Regions from separate parts of the Homo sapiens genome. Here all the other regions are linked to region 3. Evidence: fine-mapped expression QTL. A gene starts in region 3. Each other region holds a variant in brackets. All regions are shown on one strand. Distances are between the middles of the regions.

Evidence for each region.
Region 1: its variant is fine-mapped to the expression of BAZ2B-AS1 in whole blood (TOPMed, PIP above 0.99).
Region 2: its variant is fine-mapped to the expression of BAZ2B-AS1 in whole blood (TOPMed, PIP above 0.99).

What each region holds. Positions count from the first base shown.
Region 1 is chr2:159,549,701-159,554,927 of GRCh38, reverse strand. All of the region lies in intron 2 of BAZ2B (bromodomain adjacent to zinc finger domain 2B), which reads left to right. Among named protein-coding and RNA genes, the nearest start is that of BAZ2B-AS1, 63 kb to the left of the region's middle. The variant G/T (reference allele first, on the strand shown) is at 2,622.
Region 2 is chr2:159,577,243-159,582,469 of GRCh38, reverse strand. All of the region lies in intron 1 of BAZ2B (bromodomain adjacent to zinc finger domain 2B), which reads left to right. Among named protein-coding and RNA genes, the nearest start is that of BAZ2B-AS1, 35 kb to the left of the region's middle. The variant C/G (reference allele first, on the strand shown) is at 2,402.
Region 3 is chr2:159,613,058-159,618,284 of GRCh38, reverse strand. It overlaps BAZ2B-AS1 (BAZ2B antisense RNA 1), which reads right to left and starts at 2,991. Exons shown (of 2, transcript NR_110588.1): 1 at 2,832-2,991; 2 at 243-2,535. It overlaps BAZ2B (bromodomain adjacent to zinc finger domain 2B), which reads left to right and starts at 1,737. Exons shown (of 37, transcript NM_013450.4): 1 at 1,737-2,043. RefSeq lists enhancers at 1,648-1,717, 1,968-2,047, 1,675-2,201, 3,258-3,786.

The DNA of each region.
Region 1 (5,227 bases), 63 kb after region 3:
GTAACTGATACTTTTTAATTTTATTTTAAGTGTTAATTTCTGTTGTGTGTAAGGACATATATTACCTAAAGAAAAACTTTTCCAGGGCCTTTATCCACATTAGAAAATTCTAAGTGATAAAATCTGAATTACAATCATGAACTTTATATCATTTTTGAAAAATTCTCTTAAATAACAGATAAATAAATTTCTACCAAATTATTTACTCCATGATCCTGCTTCTTCAACTGTTTTAATTTAACTCATTAAATCCAGAAGCATTAATTATTAGAAGTATAAATTCACATATCAATAATGTTTTTATTTATGTTCAATCTTTTTTTTTTGAAAACTGGTTCATTTGTTAAGTTTAACATTTTGCAGAGACTAGAGAGAAATTTTATTTATTTTTAAAGGCTTTATCATCATAATTTTGTCTACTAATGCTTATAGCATATTTTATTCATTTTCCTGAGGCAGCATTTTAGCTTTCTTTGATTTGTAGCTCTTTCCTTGTTTATTTTTTCTTAATTAGAACTTTATTGCCCTAACTGAATATTTTATAATAAAATATTGACATATTTCTATAGAAACCTTCTGTTTAGCATCTAGTGCTTTACAATCAAGGAAGTTAACATTAGCATTAAATGAAACCTTTTTTAAAATTTAAAAATGCTGACTCCCACAGCTTATTTTTATTTAAATTTTTTTTCCCACAGTTTATTTTTAGGGTAACATTAAGAGAGTAATTAATTGCAACTGATCTAAATCCAAGAATTTCAGGAAGAGAGGTGATATTTAATATTATTAGATGTTAAATATCAGTTAAAGAGTAAGAAGTGTTCATTTGAGAGGTTCATAAGTGACTGATATTAGAAACCTTAAGTTTGTTATGACACTGTTGTGAGGCTTTTGCTGGCCCTTTGAGTTAAGAAAAGAGGGTAGATTTCAACATTGATTCAGGTTCAGAGTGCTAGTGAGAGAGTAGTTCAAATATATGTTTACCGTGTGGCTGGAATAAAATGAGGCCAGGAAAGGGCTGATTTATCCAAAGGAAGTAGAGAGATCAGGAGACTAGTCATAGATCCATAAACTGGTATAATGAGATGACATAGTAAGAACTAAAAGTAAAATGTTATGGTTAGAGAGGGAGATTATATTATGGGTTGTTTCAGAGCTGAAGTGTAGTAGCTATTTATATATTATGTAATATATACTTTATATATGTTTTAATCAAAATTTTCAGAAGTCAGGAGAATTGCTGTTTTTTTCTTTGATGTCACAATCCATATAAATGTCAAAACCTTTTAACTGATCTCCCTTCTTCCTGGCCATTATCAATTCCACTGAAACTTGTACACAACTCCCAGTTTGATCTGATTAAAGCATTGCTCGGTTCCTTTTATTTCTCTACTTGAAAATGTGTGGTGGCTTCTCATTTCCTATGTGATCAAATCCAGACCTTCTAACTTGGTATTTAAGATCCTTCCTCAGTTTGTCTTCAGCATATTTTCTTTTCTTTCTTTCTTTTCTTTTTTTTTTTTTTTTTTTTTTTTGAGACAGAGTCTCACTCTTGCCCAGGCTGGAGTGCAGTGGTGCAATCTTGGCTCACTGCAGCCTCTGCCTCCTGGGTTCAGGTGATTCTCCTGCCTCAGCCTTCCAAGTAGCTGGGATTACAAGCAGGTGCCACCAGGCCCAGCTAATTTTTGTATTTTTAGTAGAGACAGGGTTTTATCATGTTGGCCAGGCTGGCCTCGAACTCCTGACCTCAAGTGATCTACCCGCCTTGGCCTCTCAAAGTGCAGGGATTATAGGAGTGAACAACTGTGCCCAGGCTGTCTTCAGCATATTTTCTATTACTCAAGAATAAGAACTGTACACTCTACCTAATGTGGACTACATTCCCTACCTTGGATACACATTTTGGCTCCACACTTACATTCATGCTATTCCCTTTACCTAGAATATTCTTTTTCTTTTCACACTTAAAAAAATTTCTTCTGGTGAAATCAAACTGTCTCTCTAATACCATATCCACATATAATCATCTCCCTGAGGTTTTCCCTAATCATCCTTGTTCTCTGTTCCTAATAGTTTGGTAATGCTTAATTTTTATTACTCCAGGGTTACTGATAACATAATTGTATTTAGGGTACTTATTTTAATACACATCTTACGATACTCAGCAAATGTTTGTTGGCAATCATAATAAACCAGAAAGTGCTAAATCAATTAGTATCTTTAGTGTTCTTATATTAAAATTGAAATAAGGATATTAATACATTAATATAATTTAACCACAGGAAGCAGGGTGGATAGAAAAGAGCTTAGATTTTAGAACCTATAGAGTTCAAGTACTAACGTCACTGTGTACTAGCGATGTGACTTCTAGCAAGTCAGCCTCTTTGTGCCTCAGTATCTTCACCTATAAAACGATGCATTATTTGAATTTAAAAGGATTATGAAATTTAAATTCAATTTTTATTAGCTTTCCTCCCTCTTCGTGATAGAATTTTATGGCTTACTCCTTTACAGATAACACCAATGGGCGTGAAATCTACTATAAAGTTCAGTGATATATCCTAAACATTCAAATTTACCTTACTTACAAATTGTGGCCATTTTGTCTGTTTTAATAAATA[G/T]ATTTCTACATTATGTATATTAGTGATAACTTTATTGACTTTCAGCAAGTTTCAGCAAGGAGGCCAATTGGACCTATTAATATAATGTTCTTTTATTTGAGGAAAAGGGAGTCAGAGAACTAGAATGGCAACATCTTAAAAAACCAAAATGAACTATAGAATAGTTTAGAGTACTCTGCATTCCCCTTAGGTAATGGGCGAGAAAACCAAGGTCTAGAGAGTTTGTGGGAAAGTAGTGCACATAATAGTTAAGGACATGGACTTGGGGTTAGAAAAACCTTTGTTTTAGTTTGTGTTCTGCTACTTCTGTAGCTGATGTGATCATGAGTCAGTTTCTTAGTCTAAGACCCAATTTTTTCTTTTCTAGAGTAGGGATAATATTATTATGTCTGGAATATTAAATAAACATTGCTCATAAAGCACTTAGCACAAAAGATGGCACATACTACACTTTTCTTACCCTCATCATACTCATCAATATCTGTAAAGTTACTTGTCTAAAATTACATGATTTGAGAACTTGGACTAACCTGACTTTGCTTTATCCTGTTAGAATTTTTACTGTTCTGTTTTGTGATCAGTTCTTACTTGATTAAAGGTGTCTAAATAGCATTTATAGAAAGTATAATAAAATAATTCAGAGGTTATTTTCTTAAATCTCCCTTAATCCTCTGTCTTCTCTGAGCGTATTTTTGCAGTTGCATTTACATGCAGTCTTGTTTATATGTAATTTCATTATTATAGTGGCTATATTTTATCTTCAGATATTCTTATTTAATATTTTACTGTATATTTAATAATCTGTCCTAAGGCAACTTTTTTTTTTTTTTTTTTTTTTTTGAGTCTGAGTCTCACTGTCACCCAGGCTGGAGTGCAGTGGTGTAGTCTTGGCCCACTGCCAGGTTCACCTCCCGGGTTCACACCATTCTCCTGCCTCAGCCTCCTGAGTAGGTGGGACTACAGGTTTCCGCCACCACGCCCAGCTAATTTTTTGTATTTTTAGTAGAGACGGGGTTTCACCATGTTAGCCAGGATGGTTTTGATCTCCTGACTTCGTGATCCGCCCACCTCGGCCTCCCAAAGTGCTGGGATTATAGGCGTGAGCCACCGTGCCCGGCCGGCAACCTTTTAAATAAAGTGGCTTTTTCTGTTTTTATTAAAATTTCTTGCCTGGGCACAGTGGCTCTCACTCCTGTAATACCAGCACTTTGGGAGCCCAACAGGGGGGATTGCTTGAGCCCTGGAGTTAAAGACCAACCTGGGCAATATAGTGAGACTTTGTCTCTACAAAATAATAAACAAAATCAGCTAGGCATGGTGGCTCAAGCCTGTAGTCCCAGCTACTCGGGAAGCTGAGGTGGAAGGATTGCTTGAGTCCAGGAGTTCAAGGCTGCAGTAAGCCAAGATTGTACCATTGTACTCCAGCCTAGGCTACAGAGGAAGACCTTGCCTCAAAAAAATTTTTTTTTCTATTTTTCTCTTTGGTAATTTTATTATGAATATTACTTAAATTTTGTAGAGATACACCTCTCCCAATAGTAATACTTAATAATTGAGATGTAGAAGGAATTGCTGTATAACTTTATAGTGTACATACTGTCAGAAATACTGGTGTTAGCTAGTAAATTTAAAATGTCAGGTACCTACCACAGAGAAGATATAACCAAGTATGGCATGATTGATAGTTGTCCCTAATACTGGTTTTCCCCCTCTTCTAATTTTTTTTCCGGTATATCACTACCTAGAATAAAAACATCATTTCCCCAGTCTCCCTTGCAGCTAGGTATAGTAATCTGGCTAAATTTTGGCAAGAGATATATAGGCAGAAGTAGTGTGTGCAACTTTCAGGATGTATCCTTAAAGGAATGGGTGCACATCCTCTTTTTCGCCCCCTTCCTCCTTGCTGGCTGAATTGTGAGCATAATTGGACTGTGAGTGGAAACCCTATACTGAGAATGGGTAAAGCAGCAGTAAGAAAGAAAATCCTTACTAACATGATGTTACACTGTCCCTACTGGCCTGCCTATCCCTGGATTTCTTTGACATGACAGAGATAAAATTCTGTATTGTATGAGCCATTCACTTTTGGGCTTTCTGTCACTCCTGGCCAAAACTAATCCTGATACACCAAGCTAGCTTGATGAAGAATGTTTATGCCATTGTGGCCGGATGCGGTGGCTCACGCCTTTTTTAATCCCAGGACTTTGGGAGGCTGAGGTGGGTGGATCAGGCAGAGGTGGGCAGATCACTTGTCTGGAGTTTTGAGACCAGCTTGGCCGACATGGCAAAACCCCATCTCTACTAAAAATACAAAAATTCGCCAGGCGTGGTGGCACATGCCTGTAGTTCCAGCTACTCAGGAGGCTGAGGCAGGAGAATTGCTTGAACTCGGGAGGCGGAGGTTGCAGTGAGCTGAGATTGCACCACTGCACTCCAGCCTGGGCTACACAGCAAGACTCTGTATCAAAAAAAAAAAAAAAAAGAAAGAAAAAAGTTTATGCCAGTGTGAAAATGTCTTTTTTTTTTTTTTTTAAACATCTCACTTGTTTTATTTGAACTCTACTGTCTCCATGGTTTAAGTCAAGCTTGTCCAACCTGTGGCCTGT
Region 2 (5,227 bases), 36 kb after region 3:
GAGCCGTGATCGCACACCACTCCAGCGTGAGCTACAGAGTCTCAAAAAAAAAGTATGTGAACTTACCCAGTGCATTTATGTTTTCTGGTGGCTACTTATTTGTATTACAAAGCGATATATTCTTACCGGAGAAACTCAAATCTGTCCATTCATAAAGTAAATATATTCCCTTTGGCCCTGCTGATGGCAGTTTCCAGAACTACTTTAAAATGGTTTGCTGTACATTCTTTCAGACCTTTTTAATATGCACATGAATATATATACTTATTTTTTAAAATCTAATTAAATATGCATTCTGCAGTTTGATTATATATTCTACCTATGCAACAGAAGTCTGCCATGTGAATATATATAAATACGTTTTCTTTAAAAGGATTATACAGTGATGTGTAAGCATTTTTTTTATACTTTAAGTTCTAGGGTACATGTGCACAACGTGCAGGTTTGTTACATATGTACACATGTGCCACGTTAGTGTGCTGCACCCATTAACTTGTAATTTACATTAGGTATATCTCCTAATGCTATCCCTCCCCCCTCCCCCCACCCGACAGGCCCTAGTGTGTGATGTTCCTGACTCTGTGTCCAAGTGTTCTCATTGTTCAATTCGCACCTATGAGTGAGAACATGCGGTGTTTGGTTTTCTGTCCTTGTGATAGTTTGCTCAGAATGATGGTTTCCAGCTTCATCCATATCCCTACAAATGACATGAACTCATCCTTTTTTATGGCTGCATAGTATTCCATGGTGTATATGTGCCACATTTTCTTTATCCAGTCTATCATTGATGGACATTTGGGTTGTTTCCAATTCTTTGCTATTGTGAATAGTGCTGCAATAAACATACATGTGCATGTGTCTTTATAGCAGCATGATTTATAATCCTTTGGGTGTATACCTAGTAATGGGACAGCTGGGTCAAATGGTATTTCTAGTTCTAGATCCTTGAGGAATCACCACACTGTCTTCCACAATGGTTGAACTAGTTTACAGTCCCACCAACAGTGTAAAAGTGTTCCTATTTCTCCACATCCTCTCCAGCACCTGTTGTTTCCTGACTTTTTAATGATCGCCATTCTAACTGGCATGAGATGGTATCTCATAGTGGTTTTGATTTGCATTTCTCTGATGGCCAGTGATGATGAGCATTTTTTCATGTGTCTGTTGGCTGCATAAATGTCTTCTTTTGAGAAGTGTCTGTTCGTATCCTTTGTCCACTTTTTGACGTGGTGGTTTGATTTTTTTTTTCTTGTAAATTTGTTTAAGTTCTTTGTAGATTCTGGATATTAGCCCTTTGTCAGATGGGTAGATCGTAAAAATTTTCTCCCATTCTGTAGGTTGCCTGTTCACTCTGATGGTAGTTTCTTTTGCTGTGCAGAAGCTCTTTAGTTTAATTAGATCCCATTTGTCAATTGTGGCTTTTGTTGCCATTGCTTTTGGTGTTTTAGTCATGAAGTCTTTGCCCATGCCTATGTCCTGAATGGTATTGTCTAGGTTTTCTTCTAGGATTTTTATGATTTTAGGTCTGACATTTAAGTCTTTAATCCATCTTGAATTAATTTTTGTATAAGGTGTGAGGAAGGGATCCAGTTTCAGCTTTCTACATATGGCTAGCCAGTTTTCCCAACACCATTTATTAAATAGGGAATCCTTTCCCCATTGCTTGTTTTTCTCAGGTTTGTCAAAGATCAGATGGTTGTAGATGTGTAGTATTATTTCTGAGGCCTCTGTTCTGTTCCATTGGTCTCTATGTCTGTTTTGGTTACTGTAGCCATGCTGTTTTGGTTACTGTAGCCTTGCAGTATAGTTTGAAGTCAGATAGTGTGATGCCTCCAGCTTTGTTCTTTTGGCTTAGGATTGTCTTGGCAACGCGAGCTCTTTTTTGGTTCCATATGAACTTTAAAGTAGTTTTTTCCAGTTCTGTGAAGAAAGTCATTGGTAGCTTGATGGGGATGGTATTGAATCTATAAATTACCTTGGGCAGTATGGCCATTTTCACGATATTGGTTCTTCCTATCCATGAGCATGGAATGTTCTTCTATTTGTTTGTGTCATCCTTTATTTTGTTGAGCCGTGGTTTGTAGTTCTCCTTGAAGAGGTCCTTCACATCCCTTGTAAGTTGGATTCCTAGGTATTTTATTCTCTTTGAAGCAATTGTGAATGGGAGTTCACTCATGATTTGGCTGTTTCTCTATTATTGGTATATAGGAATGCTTGTGATTTTTGCACATTGATTTTGTATCCTGAGACTTTACTGAAGTTGCTTATCAGCTTAAGGAGATTTTGGGCTGAGACGATGGGGTTTTCTAAATAAAAAATCATGTCATCTGCAAACAGGGACAATTTGACTTCCTCTTTTCCTTATTCAATACCCTTTATTTCTTTCTCCTGCCTGATTGCC[C/G]TGGCCAGAACTTCCAACACTATGTTGAATAGGAGTGGTGAGAGAGGGCATCCCTGCCTTGTGCCAGTTTTCAAAGGGAATGCTTCCAGTTTTTGCCCATTCAGTATGATATTGGCTGTGGGTTTGTCATAAATATCTCTTATTATTTTGAGATACATCCCATCAATACCTAGTTTATTGAGAGGTTTTAGCATGAAGGGCTGTTAAATTTTGTTGAAGGCCTTTTCTGCATCTATTGAGATAATGATGTGGTTTTTGTCTTTGGTTCTGTTTATATGGTGTATTACATTTATTGATTTGTGTATGTTGAACCAGCCTTGCATCCCAGGGATGAAGCCAATGTGATCGTGTTGGATAAGCTTTTGCTGCTGGATTCAGTTTGCCAGTATTTTATTGAGGATTTTTGCATCGATGTTCATCAGGGATATTGGTCTAAAATTATCTTTTTTTTGTTGTGTCTCTGCCAGGCTTTGGTATCAGGATGATGTTGGCATTAAAATGAGTTAGGGAGGATTCCCTCTTTTTCTATTGATTGGAATAGTTTCAGAAGGAATGGTACCAGCTCCTCTTTGTACCGCTGGTAGAATTCGGCTGTGAATCCATCTGGTCCTGGACTTGTTTTCGTTGGTAGGCTATTAATTATTGCCTCAATTTCAGAGCTTGTTATTGATCTATTCAGGGATTCAACTTCTTCCTGGTTTAGTCTTGGGAGGGTGTATGTGTCCAGGAATTTATCCATTTCTTCTAGATTTTCTTGTTTATTTGCGTAGAGGTGTTTATAGTATTCTCTGATGGTAGTTTGTATTTCTGGGGGATCGGTGGTGATACCCCGTTTGTCATTTTTTTATTGCGTCTATTTGATTCTTCTCTCTTTTCTTCTTTATTAGTCTTGCTAGCGATCTATCAGTTTTGTTGATGTTTTCAAAAAACCAGCTGCTGGATTCATTGATTTTTTGAAGGGTTTTTTTGTGTCTCTGTCTCCTTCAGTTCTGCTCTGATCTTAGTTATTTGTTGTCTTCTGCTAGCTTTTGAATTTGTTTGCTGTTGCTTATGTAGTTCTTTTAATTGTGACGTTAGGGTGTCAATTTTAGATCTTTCCTGCTTTCTCATGGGCATTTAGTGCTATAAATTTCCCTCTACACACTGCTTTAAATGTGTCCCAGAGGTGGTGGTATGTTGTGTCTTTGTTCTCATTGGTTTCAAAGAACATCTTTATTTCTGCCTTCATCTCGTTATGTACCCAGTAGTCATTGAGGAGCAGGTTGTTCGGTTTCCATGTAGTTAAGCGGTTTTGAGTGAGTTTCTTAATCCTGATTCCTAGTTTGATTGCACTGTGGTCCTAGAGACAGTTGTTAAAATTTCTGTTCTTTTACATTTGCTGAGGAGTGCTTTACTTCCAACTGTGTGGTCAATTTTGGAATAAGTGCGATGTGTTGCTGAGAAGAATGTATATTCTGTTGATTTGGGGTGGAGAGTTCTGTAGATGTCTATTAGGTCTGCTTGGTGCAGAGCTGAGTTCAATTCCTGGATATCCTTGTTAACTTTTTGTCTCGTTGATCTGTCTAATGTAAGCATTTTTAAATCATTCCTTTGTTGAGGGACATTTTGTTTGTCTCTCATTTTGGGAAACATTGGGTTATACAGAAGTATTTTCTGTTCTGCATTATGGATCTCCAAAAAGGGCAAAGGGTGTGCACAATTTTCTGAACTTATTTTACCATAGAACTTTTCTTTTTTTTATGAACTGTGAATTTTTCAAAGAGTGTATTGTATCACTGATCCTCCATTAAAAGTATTTGAAGCTCTTGTCAATCTTCTTGTTTTACTTATAAAATTAAGAGTTAGTAGAAAATTGAAACCACAGTCTGTTTCTTGACTCTGTTGTTCAGTGTTGTTCCTTTTGCTTTGAATTTTTGTCTTCATTTAGTACTCTTTCCTGAATTCAAATAAGAAAGCTAAGCACTAGAGTTTTTATAAGGGAAAAGAACAGTTTTCATGTGTTCATACTAGGGAAAGTTAAAGTTTCTATGTCTTTAGGTTTTTCTTTTTGTCAGCAGGTGATATCTTGGTAGGTAATTAATGACAAGTGAAAACAAGTGAGGTTTCAGACAATTTGATGTAGCTTTCTTTAAATTACTTAAGTCCTCTAACATAAATGAACTAGTTCTTTTCTCATGTTGAATAATTCTTTTAATTACTTTAAGAATAGCTTGAAAAGCAGTATTATAAGTTTCAGTGTGTTTAGTAAGTTTCTTAGCTATTTCTTTAGCCTTTCTCCTTCCCATTAAGGTACCTACTTTTATTTCTTGTGGTGTATAAAAGGACTTTGGTCAATCTAAACTGAAGCAGATACGTTTTAAGATAGAGATATTCTTGAGTCTTGTCACATAATTGTTATTATTTTTCATCTTTCCCTAGGCTGTCAGGTTTCTCTAATCTTAGGGCACATTTAAAGTATTTTTCCTCCCTAACTGAACATTTGCTTGGATCAAGCAGATCATTTTGTGTAGTGAAAACAATCATTGGACCAAGAACTGGTATCCTCTTTTAGTTCTTTGTTTTTCAAATTTATTTAAAGAAATCAAAATAGTTTTTTTCTGATTATAAAGGTAATGCATACTTACAGAAAGTGTAACTAATGCAGAAATAATTTTTTAAAGACAGTTAAGTCACTTAAAATTCTACTATTTGGAGCTAACCTCTTTAACGTGGTAAATGCTCTTCCCTGTAAATATACACACACATTTATAAAAATAAGGTCATACTCTACTGGTTTGTAATTTTCCTTTTTAATCAATAATATGTTTTGGAACATGTTATTTTTTA
Region 3 (5,227 bases):
ACCTTAGGCCAGTTTTTACTGTAGAGACAGTTTGCTGCTAAAAGAGAAATTGTATGTCATTGAAATTAAATGCTTTTCTGGGGATGGAAGATTCCAGTTTTTAATGAAATTACTGAGTGTGGTGTAGTGAAATGATTAAAATCTGTATTCCGGGAATGTGGCAGGGAAAAAAAATCAATAAGTGCTAGCACAGCTTTGCTGCTCAATGTGAATCCTGAGAATGAAATAAACTACTACAAAAATAATAATTAAAAACATATCAGCACATTAATTTATTTAGCATCAGTCTCCTGAGACATCATCTTCACTAATTTTTAGCATACATTTTACTCTGTAATGAGCAGCCTTCTTTTCAGATATCCCTATTAGACAGGCAGTATTTCTGCCCTTCCCCCAGTGCTCCTGCATTGCAATCATTGTACTTGCACTTATTATGTTACAAATGACCGAGGTAAGGCTGACATTCTCAGTGCATGCAAAAAGACCGAGTCTGCCAAGCTTTTTTTTTTTCCTAATGAAGCAGCTTTGTGAAATCTCCCCATGTGTTAATACTAATGAAGATCCTCCAGCACAATTAAAATCACAGCCAGTGGCTGAAGAGGAAACATAAAACAATAGCATCTTTTAAGATACATTTATCCACATATGTATAAAATATACATAGATGATCAAATTATTCTCCGATAGCTTAATTTTTACTTACTCTTCATCCTGAAAATTAAATTATGCAATTTTTAATTATATGAACTTTGAGACTTTCTTGTGTTCTGGAGGGAAAAAACGGTACCTCAACGAACTTCTAAAAAAAAAAATACGTATCTTCTTGGCTAATAAAGTGTTATCAAGATTAAGGCTTTTAAAAAAATTGTTTTTAGGAATCTATAGGATGGGGTGCGGGAGGGAATGGGGCCTATTGTATCTTTAGTTTAACTTGATTGGTTGCAGGATTTGGGAATTGGGGTTGGGGGAGTGGAAGGGTAAAAACAAAGTTGGAAGAGATTCTGGGGGTAGACCATAGCATATGACTGCATTTGTAGTTTAAAGGAGCAAAGGGCTACCAGTCTTACTCATAACTTGATTTTTAAAAAGTGTTCAGTGCCTACAATTTGCTATGCTTTTTTTCTAATCTCTCAGAAACTTGAAAAAAAGCTATCGAGATTACCTTTTACAGTGTGTGCATATAACTTTAAAACGACTATTTTAACGTCTTTTATTTAAATTTTATTTTAACTTAGTGCATAAACATTACAGCCAGTTTAACTTGTCCGTGGAAAGGCAGTAGAATTTTACCCCGGGACCGTCTTGCATACTGCTTTTTTTGAGTTTTAACATCCGCAAAATCTTGGCATATTAATTTAGTTGGGTTGTAGAATTCTGAGTTTAGGAACAAAAAAAATTTAGGTGGAGATGGTTGACCTATGCTCCCTACTCTGTAGCTTTTGTTTTTTTAAAAACTAAGTTTTAAATCCCGTTTTCTGTCCTGTCTTCTTTAAAAGCAAAACAAAACATTTTAAGTTTCTTAACTTTTTCCTGGGACAAGGAACGGTGCAAACTCAAAGCTACAGTATTCTTGGAAAGAAGAAGCAACCCCCTCCCTTGGCTCCTTTAGGAGCTGATAGGTCATTTATTATTGGAACTGAAATGGTATAAACAATTCTCTCTCTTTTTTTCCCTTGTTAACAGCAACTTTCATTGTTAGAGAGAGGAGAGAGAGAGAAGCCTTGTTGGTTGACGTCACTTGGTTCATGAAGCCTTCGCCTAGAAGTGAAGCTGCTGAACAAACCTTGAGAAGAATCATCTCCTGCTTCAATCTGCTGCTGGATAGGAACTAATCAGAGAGAGAGAGGCGGAAGACGGAGAAGGAGGGAGTCGAAGGCTTTCCCGATCACAAATCTCACCTCCACTACAACTCTCTTTATACTTTTCTTGCAGAAATAATAATAGAAATAAGGAGGTGGTGGGGTTTCCAAAAATCTTAACCTTCAACCATCTGGGGAAAAGGCAAAAATCCCATCTACCGCAACTCTCAGTTCGAGAGTAAAGGTGAGTTTAAAATCCTCGGGCGTGAGGGGTGCGGGTGAGGATGTAAATTCCCAGTGTTACAAAGCCGGTGGAAACAGCAGCGGAGAAACTGCGCTCGGGCAAGCGGGGGACTCCGGAGTTGCTGCGTGGAGGCGCTCGCCCCGCCGCCCTCTCGCCCTCCGCCGCTGTTTATCCTCGCCGGTCGGTGCGGCTCTTTGTTGTGGTGGCCGGAAGGCTGGGGTGGTTCTCGGGGTCCCGAGTGGAGTTTGGGGGAGGAGGACACGGAGATGTGCCGTCCTGGGTGGGAGGTGGGGGGTGCGGCCTCAGGAGAACGTAAACTTTATTCCTAGAAGCCGGTGCGGGACTTCGCTGGAGTAGGGCCGTGGGTTGTGCTCCCGGCCGGGCAGGCGCTGCCGCCGCGAGTCCGCCGCCTTTGTGCCGGCCGCCCTGGCTTCGCGTCTCCTTCCTCTTCCCCTTCGGCTTCCAGCGCTCAGGTCGCCGCCAACAGTTTTGCTTCTTAAAAAACAACCTCTGTCAGCGTTGCGATGGCCGTTCCTACCCCGGAATATCCGCTGCTCCCCCACTCCCTGCCGGGGTAGTTTCTGGATCACCCCCCACCCCCGTCCGCCTCCTGCTGCCCTTTTTTGCCTCCGCCCCCTCTTCCCTGTCGGACTGACGAGCTGCGTCTGCCACCCCCACTCCCCGGCTTGGGCCTCTAGCTCTCCCGTGTGTAGCTGGAGGCTCTGAGTTTACTGAAGATGAGCGGGGGTGGGGGTGGGGCAGGTGGGATTGGGAAAAGATCTGGATACCTGGGAAGGTCTATGTCAGCACGCAGAAGGTTTGAGGAGCATTGCTTCTCATACAGTAAGGTCTGTGCCTTGGTCTCATGTTTTAGCAGTTCTTCCCCGGGAACGACCGCCAGCTCCCAACTCCTCTGCTTCCCTCTTTTAATCTTCTTGTCGCTACCCCTCCCCCCAGCCCCCGTTCTCTTTCGCGGCTCCCTCCCCTTTAAGTAGTTTCACGAACCCCAGAATTGGGATTTGAGAAGGGGAAGGAAGTGTTTGAAGAGTCAGAGCTGGCTCTGTTGTTTGGGAGATTTTCTCTTCTTTTCTTTCTCCCTCTGTATTTATCTTTTGTCTGTTGCTTCCTTATAAAGAGGGAAGCAGCTGCAGTCCTTGGCCGAGTTGTTGAAATTTATCCCTTTGTGTATATTACAATATCCTCCATTTTTTTTCCTGCCCTCTAAACAACAAGCGTTTCGCCATCTTGGGCAATTTTATTCCCAAGTCTCTCTCTTTTTTATTTTTGAGGAAAGGAAAGAAGTATTAGGAAGTGTGTCTGGATAAGTCTCAAAGTTTAGGGAATGTTCAGGGGGCCCAGTGACGTCATGTAAACTTTACGGAGAAATTTTCCCAAGAGTAAATTTTTTGCTTAATTTTTCTCCTGTTTTATAGGATTGTGTAACTTACAGGTTACTGATAAGTTGTGTGGCTTATTTTTGTGTTTTGCTCTCAAAATCAGTATACGAAGTCTGCGTATTGTATGTTTTGGTAACAGGTGGAAGATTATATGCAAAAAATGGTAAAAAACTTGTGCGTCATTTGTTATTTATCTGGTTTTTGTGTACTTTTTTTTTTAATTTAAAGGTTTCAACTGTTATCTGTAGTCAGTATATTCCCTTTCTTATTTGCTCCACTCTCCCTTATGGATTTTTTGAAAATTAGCTTGGTTAATATTTATGTATGGTTATTTTAGATTATCTGGCTCCCCGTTTCTAATAAAATGTTCTGGGGTTTTCTTTTTCTATTATTTATTTACATTTTGAAAAGAAATGACTATGGAAAATACCTTAAGATAATGGATACTTTAAAATTTAGTAGCAGATATTAAGTCAAACAATTATTGAGTATTTAAGAGGCAGAATTGATTTTAAAAGTTATTTTATAATCGCTAGCTATAAACTCTTTGTCAGCCATTATGAACAGATAAACAAAAACTAGCACTGTTTTAATTTGCTTGTCTAACATAGTTTTTCGCCTCACAAAAGTTGGTTTGGTCACATGACCAAGCTTAATGATACACTGACTAGTATATAAATAAGAGGCACTGTATATTGAATGGGAAAGTGGAATTCTGTCTCCTGTAGTCATTTTCAGTCAGCATATTTACATCTCTTCTAACAAGGACATGAAACTGTCTGTATTTAATTTGCATTCTCTTTGTCTTCTGGGTTGAGGGAAAAACACTGACTACAATTAACTTAAAAAAAGCTAATAGAAACAATTCTGAATACATTGAAAAGGTTTGTGTAACACACAGAAATTTATGTTCTATATGGTAAGTTTTTATTTCTGTAGCAGTCTTCTTTGGTGTTATCTATTTATCCAGGAATTTGCTTCATGTAATATGCTATATAGAAAGCTTGACTGAGTTGAGTGTCTGCCATTTATGTGAATTGTAGGTAGGTGAAAAATGTTTAAATAGTTAAAAGCACATAGAACAGATGGTTCTAAATTATACATGCAACAAAGGACTAGAAGATTTGGCAGATTATAAATGGCAAGCAACAGAGGATAAGCAGTTTAAGAAAATGGTAGTTAAGTACATTTGATGTCTCACACCTATTGTAAACACTGTACATATTATTGTCACTCTGCTGCATAATCAGTAATTTGGACAACATTAAGACACTCGTATGGTTCAGATAGAAAAAAGTAATTTTTACAAGTATTTGAAACAAGTGGTTGAATTTAAAATTATTTTAAGCCTACGATGATGAAGAGTCTTTTTTTTTTTTTTTTTTAGAAAATCAGATTGTATGCTTTAAAAATACAAAGTTATTTATGAGAACTTAATATTGTGTTCTTATAATGGTTGGAGAGAAACAGGAATGGGTACATATTTTAAAATCCAGATAATAGTAGCTTCACTGTTCTCACATGTTAAACTAGTGCCGAATTGTAGTACCATTTACTCTTACAAACACTAATGAAAAAATACTTCTAAACTCTTCAGTCTTGGAAATGCATTTATTGGAATACTGCTGGCATCATTTATGAAATACTTATTAAATGAAGGAAGGATATATTTTAGTTTTAATTTTTGAGTTTTATACATAACATTATGATACTGATTTTACTTGAATATTGTTTATTTACAATTTTTAGAATAGATGGATTCTTATGCAGGTTTTTTCTTTCTAGAA